Linked DNA regions of Homo sapiens. The protein of the gene in region 2 purifies or fractionates together with the protein of the main gene of each other region. This does not show direct contact. Each region holds a gene or a part of one and is shown on either strand. Other genes may lie near its edges.

The links. The genes of interacting proteins can lie anywhere in the genome.
Region 1: the proteins of IDI1 (region 2) and BLMH purify together in Homo sapiens (affinity purification with mass spectrometry; one large-scale study listed by BioGRID and IntAct). This does not show direct contact.

What each region holds. Positions count from the first base shown.
Region 1 is NC_000017.11:30,281,945-30,285,444, forward strand, and holds part of BLMH (bleomycin hydrolase), read right to left. Parts: coding exon 3,444-3,500; intron 1-3,443. UniProt on the Homo sapiens protein: The normal physiological role of BLM hydrolase is unknown, but it catalyzes the inactivation of the antitumor drug BLM (a glycopeptide) by hydrolyzing the carboxamide bond of its B-aminoalaninamide moiety thus protecting normal and malignant cells from BLM toxicity.
Region 2 is NC_000010.11:1,042,620-1,046,119, forward strand, and holds part of IDI1 (isopentenyl-diphosphate Delta-isomerase 1), read right to left. Parts: intron 1,583-3,500; exon of another isoform or gene 1,553-1,582; coding exon 1,380-1,552; exon of another isoform or gene 891-1,379; coding exon of another isoform or gene 869-890; intron 775-868; coding exon 682-774; intron 144-681; coding exon 13-143; intron 1-12. UniProt on the Homo sapiens protein: Catalyzes the 1,3-allylic rearrangement of the homoallylic substrate isopentenyl (IPP) to its highly electrophilic allylic isomer, dimethylallyl diphosphate (DMAPP).

The DNA.
Region 1 (3,500 bases), on a different chromosome or scaffold from region 2:
ATATATTGTTTTCAATAGCTGACAGCCACTGCTATAGAATTTCCTAAGTCAATCATAAAGGCTTCTTTTCCCTTTTTGTGGCACTGACAAATATTGGTTTTGGTCTTTGATTGACTGATCGATTGATTTTAGAAATGAGGTCTCACTAGGTTGCCCAGGTAGCACTTGAACTCCTGGGTTTCTGGACTCAAGTGATCTGCCTTAGCCTCCCAAGTAGCTGGCACTACAAGTGTTACCACCATGCCTGGCTATGTTTTGCTTTTTAACAGACAAGGTTTTTTTTTTTTTTTTTTTTTTGAGACAGAGCCTTGCTCTGTCACCCAGGCTGGACTGCAGTGGCACAATTTTGGTCTCCACCACCTGCAGGGTTCCGGTGATTCTTGTGTCTCAGCTGCCCAAGCAGCTGGCATTATAGGCATGCACCACTATGCCCAGATGTTTTTTTCGTATTTTAGTAGAGACGGGGTTTTGCCATGTTGGCCAGGCTGGTCTTGAACTCCTGGCCTCAAGTGATCCATCTGCCTTGACCTCCCAAAGTGCTGGGATTATAGGCATGAGCCACTGCGCCCAACTGAGAATACATTAATAATCTTAAGGGGATCCGCAGGCTAAAAAAATGGACACTGAGATAACATTGCAATAGAGGTAACTACACATCTCCAAAACAGATCTGCCTTGCCTGTCATCTCAACAAGCAGCCTGCGTCTCACTTCTCAGTAAGAATGCCTTTAGCATAAACACATTTTATTCAAAGCTATCTGAGCTTCACGGCTGTTGATTAAGCCATCATTTTGACTTGCCTACAAGGTTACACAAATCATAGGTACTAATTTGGGGCTTTAAAACTGCAGCTAGACTCTTCATTACCAAAGAGTCAGGTTCAATGAAAAGAAGTCATTTGGGGGATTGTAAAAATTTTAAAACCTTATACACAGGGCCAGGTATGGCGGCTCACACTTTATAATATGCACAATCTTTGGGAGGCTAAGGTGGGAGGACTGCTTGAGCCCAGGTGGTGGAGATCGGCCTGGGAAATATAGTGAGACTGAATCTCTACACAATTTTTTTAATAAATGAGCTGGGCATGGTGGCATGCACCTGTAGTCCCAGCTACTTGGGTGGCTGAAGCAGCATTTGAGCCCAGGAGTTGAAAGTTACAGTAAGCTATGACTGCGCCTCTGCACTCCAGCTTGGGCAACAAAGCAAGACTCTGTCTCTAAGGGGGAAAAAACCCTTACACACAGAATTCTGTAGTAAATAGTTTAGGTAGAATCATTAAGTAAATAATCCTATAAAACATTCATACTCAGGATTTGGTAAAGTTGGATCTACTATTTCTCTGAGGCAGGAGTAGGGGAGGAAAAAAATATGTGAAACATATCTGCCCTAATTCTTACCAGCCAATTACCACGCTCTACCAATGATGAGGACATCAATCTTAGACACATCATTAGTTCAAAGATCATTAAAGCAAACATCAAAAGCCAAAAGGATGCTTATTATCTACAGCAAGTATTATCTGGGCCCTTTTCCACAACTGTTTGCAGAACCTTCATTCCTACTATACCTCCATCTTTTTTTTTTTTTTTTTTTTTGGAGACGGAGTCTCACTCTGTCACCAGGCTGGAGTACAGTGGCACAATCTCGGCTCACTGCAAGCTCTGCCTCCTGGGTTCAAGTGATTCCCCTGCCTCAGCCTCCCGAGTAGCTGGGACTACAGGCGCATACCACCACGCCCAGCTAATTATTTGTATTTTAGTAGAGACGGGGTTTCACCATGTTGGTCAGGATGGTCTTGATCTCCTGACCTTATGATCCGCCCACCTTGGCCTCCCAAAGTGCTGAGACTGCAGGCATGAGCCACCGTGCCTGGCCCCCACCATCTTAATCTAACCCTAAATAAAGGCAAATTATGTAGCAGATATAGCCTCTGCAAGACAGTCATTCCAAGCAAGAAGGGAAGAAGTAACATTTACAGAACTCCTGCTACGTGCCAGGCACTATGCCTTGCATGCTTACATTTAATCCTTGATTCCCCAAAAATCCAATAAGGAAAATATTTCAGATCCTGACTGAATCTCAGACAGGTTAAGTAACTTACCTAGGATCACAGACTGTTAAGTAAAAGAGTCAGAATTTAAACCCATGTATGTCTGACTCCAAAGCCTATTTTTTCCTACTATACTAAGATGCCTCTCTTCTGTAAGAATTTAAGAGATAAAAATGAGATTATTTAAATGCATTTGGTAAATGAAATTTCTGCATTCGTCCACTCAACAAATACTTAAGAAACAGCTATTGTGCCAAGCACTAGGCTAGACATGTTAAATATGAACTGAGCCTTTAGAGCTTAAGGAACTTGTCCCAGGATATAAAGTAATGAGAAGACTAGAGCTCAGATAGCCTGACTTCAGAGATTACACACTCCACTGCTCCACTATGCTGCATCTCTAAGATTTAAAGGAAAACACAAGTGAAGCATTAGTGTTTTCCATCGCAGTGAAAAAAAGTAGGCCATTTTAACTCCATACAGTCTTGAAAGGAAGCCTAATAAAGGGCCTACTGGCTGACAAACGGAAACATTTATTCTTTCCTCAAACCAATTGCAGTTTTATGCATATTCATTCTGGACATGGATAGTATTAATAATAAAGTTTCTTAACTGTCTTGATCATAAATAATATTACCACCTCATATTTTAGTGCTTTTTACATTTTCTAAAATGTTTTTACATACATTAACAAATATAACCATCAATAGCTCCGTCTTTATTTCTACAGAAAGAAGCCAAATGTTCTGGCATCGATCCAACATCCCTTACATCTCTGCCTTTCTAGCTTAATTTGCTACCCATCATACTGAAAAAAGTTATGTTTCAGCCACATGATTCCCTGAAGGTTCTATCTTTGTTTATGGCACTGTTCATACAATTCCTTTTGCCTAGAATGGTCTTGTTATCTACCTGGTAAATTCTGACTACTCTTTCAAGAGCTATCTTCCCTATGAAAGCTTCAGCTCACTGAGCTAGTCACTCCCTCCTCTATGACCACCAAATCAGTTTTTACACATCTAGCATAGGATTTATCATCATTATAGATGTGTTTTCTTTTTCCCAAGAGACTGAGCTCTTTAAGAGCAGTGACTATGTCTTTCTCATCTGTTTCCTCAGTGCCAAACTCATAGAAGGTATTTAATATTTATGAAATGATAAAAGAATGATTATACAGACCACTAAACTACGAATTAGAAAATCCAAGTCCAAGTCCTACACTAAAAGGCAAAGTAAGTTTTAAGCTCAGTTTTTTCAGTGTAAAATAAGTAATTTTCAATTCAATTAAACATTCGTTGCCATGACTAAAGCTTCCTAATCATTACTTTAACAGATGGGAATATTCTGAGAGTTCCTTAGAGGGGTCACAAAAAAATCCAAATTTTGTTATTACCTCCTCCATCATGACGTCCTGTGTGGCCGAGATTTCTCCTTTGGTTGCTCCACTGTG
Region 2 (3,500 bases):
AGAGCTGGTTACCTCTTCCAAGGGAATTCCTAGCTCAGCTTTCAGCCGTCTCTGTGCTGCTCGCCTCACTCCAAGGGCGTCACTTTCCTCAAGCTCGGCTGGATTGCTTAATGGATGACTACAACACGTATTCGTAAAACAACCTGGAAAATGGTAATACAGAGACAGATCAACTTTTCTTCAAAGTAGGTCTGAAAGATCAAGAAAAAGTTTTATAAGTAACTGAAAAATGAAATGATTTTTAAGGATTTTAAAATCAGTTATAATGGGCTATCAGTAATTATTTTAAGGATTTTAAAATTGGTTATAATGGGCTATCAGTAATTATTTTAAGGATTTTAAAATTGGTTATAATGGGCTATCAGTAATTATGTTGTGAAACAGACTACATTTGTAGGTAGGTTCCTTATTAATACTTCTTTAACCAAAAAAGATCAAAGTGTAGATAATACAGATTAAAGATAAATATGTAAATTATACATATTGCCCAATTGCTTACTAGTTCTTATTTTTTCTTGCTGTTGTATTAGGTTGCACTCATTGTGTAAACTCACTTTATGCAGAATATAAAATTATGCCATTCACAGGATTTCCCTTTGTGACCTTGGCTCCAAGAATTCAGAATGATAAAAAGTCAAATTAATGTACAAACACAATATTGTACATTAAAAGTGTACTAACCTGGAAAGGTAATCTTAGCATCTGATCTTTGCTGTAGCAGAAGCTTATTTTCGGTGTTGAATAAGAAGACACTAAAAGCTCGATGCAATAATCCTGAAAGCAAAAGAAATAACAATTATTTTAGCCTTAAGTACCAGTTATTTGCCAAATTCTCTCCCTGCAGTTCAGAATAACATTAGTAACTTGCTGCTGCTTTTGCTTTTTCCCATGGTTTATCCACATGCATAGTCTCTGCATGGCTATGGTGAGGAAGAGCTCTGCACTGGGCAAGGAAGTTGGCCGTCGAGTGAAGGAAATGGTGATGCTGGTGGCCCCTTTCCGGCAGTCAAGTTCCCTATCAAGGACATTCAGTTCTCGGAAAGTGGTGAAGGCACATGCTTCCCTGCATGGTGCCCGCCTCTCTCCACTCTCTAGAAATATTAGAGGCTAGGCTGCTGCTGTATGTCAGGGCTAGTCCCTCTTCTATGAATCCAGAATAACTCTGAAGAAGCCGAGTAACAGGCATGAAGTGAAGAGAAATCGCTGTAACAGGAAGACAGCAAAGCAGATGCTAATGACCACACTATTTAACGAACTGGAACCAACGAGAAAATACGGTATTACTGAAGACTGCACTTCCTTGAACAGAGTGCTCTTCTCAGCAAATCGGAAATGCCTACACAAATCGCTTTACAAGAAAGACTGTTTCAAAGCAGCACCTTTCTCAATGTTCTCGTTCAGGTGACAATTCTTCTTGGTCTCAGCTCCAATTTTATTGTCATTTTCATCAATAAGGATACACATCTCTGCCAGGAGTTGAACCTGTTGCTTGTCGAGGTGGTTAGTGTTTATTTCAGGCATCATTACAAAATGTCTGATCTGTTCTAGAACACTAATATTAAAGGAAAAGAGAAAGAAAGGCCATCATATATTTTTCTGAATGTCATATAAACACAGGTTAATAATGATGCTGCTTCCCCATCTGCAGTTGTACCACTCTGCATCCCCACAGGGACCCCAAGAACGCTGCCAGCCGGCTGCTCAGCACTATCTGGGTCATCATTTCTCCTACAGGTTTCACAGCTGGCCTTTTATCACAGTCATGCTCCTGAAGGCCAAGCTCAACGTTCCGCTCTAAATTCTTGACCTCTGAGATCCTCTGCAGCACTTGATACTCAATCCTTTTTCCAGTGTACTTTTCTTCTCTGGTTTTTGGCCCCAACCTAACTTTTCATCCTGCTTTTCTACACCAGCTTCTGTAATCTCTAGAATGTGCTCCCATTGCCATCCTGAATTGTTTTTCCCACTGCCTGTCTCTGCATAGTTGCTCAAGATTGCCACAGGCCAATCTTGGTTGAAATCCATTTTTTCAAGGCACAACTCGTGCCAGACATTCAATAACCTTTCTACCAATGTCACAGTAAGACTTAATCCAGTTTTTCTCAACCCAAGCTCCTGGGTTATCAGAAAAATTATTTGTATGAGTTTTGTCAATTTCCCCCAGGACAGTACTTAGCTGATATCATTCTAGATAAACAGGAGAAGACTTAATTCGTTATATTCAATAGATGCTTTAAGGCAGTGCTTGGCAAGTTTTTTCTGTGAAGGGCCAGAGAGTATGAACTCTGCCTCTGTAACACTAAAATAGTCACAGGCAATAGGTGAACTGGGCAGTATGTAAACTGAGTGTGGGTGCATGCCAATATTTATGGACACTGAATTACATTTAATTTTCATGTGTCACAAAATATTTTGATTCTTCTCCATCCGTTTAAATATGAGAAAAACACTCAGCTCACAGGACGTAACAACAGGCAGCAGGCCAGATTTGGCCTATAGGCCATAGTTGGCCCATTCCTACCTTAGTGCATCAAACATTAATTTTCTGAACCCCCATTTATCCCTCCCATGTGATTACAACGTAAAGCACTTATTAGGGTACTTTCAGTATTCTGACTCACACTTTTACATATCTGTATCCAGCAGCGTCTAAGCTTTCTAATCTTTGTATCCTTCAGGGCACCTTTACATAGTCTGACCTTGAAGTTTTTTATTCCCTTTTTTCTTCTCCTTTATTTCTGAATGAATAATAATTTTTGTTTTCTGATTTTTCTACCCAATATATTTTGAAGATCCCATGTGCTCTACTTTCTATGTGACTCTATTTCAAATACATAGATTTTACTGAAATACTTTTTTGTTTCTGAGAGGGAGTCTCGTTTTGTTGCCCAGGCTGGAATGCAATGGTGCAATCTCAGCTCACTACAACCCCCACCTCCTGGGTTCAAGTGATTCTCCTGCTTTGACCTCCCAAGTAGCTGGGACTACAGGCGTGCACCACCACGCCAGGCTAATTTTTGTATTTTTAGTAGAGACGAAGTCTTGCCATGCTGGCCATGCTGATCTCGAACTCCTAACCTCAGGAGATCTGCCTGCTTTGGCCTCCCAAAGTGTTGAGATTACAGGAGTGAGCCACCACACGGGGACCACTGAAATACTTTCAACAGAGTTCAAGCATACTGCAGAATGTACACAAAGTGTTTAAACAGCTACTTAATACAAAGTTCTAGACCCACATAGGGTCTGGGTGTGTGTGTGTGTGTGTGTGTGTGTGTGAATGCGTGTGTCAGGAGTCAGTGATGATGGAGATATTGATATCTAATACAAAAAATCTGAAATAAGGTTAATGATTAAAACAAATCAAGAGGGAAAATAATGTGAAAAGGAAGTCAACTTCAGAGTTAGCCTCAATTTTAGAAAGATTTCCAACTTCTATAGGCTAGTTTTATATACAGTCATCCTTTGGTATATATGGGAGTTAGTTCCAGGACCTCCCACAG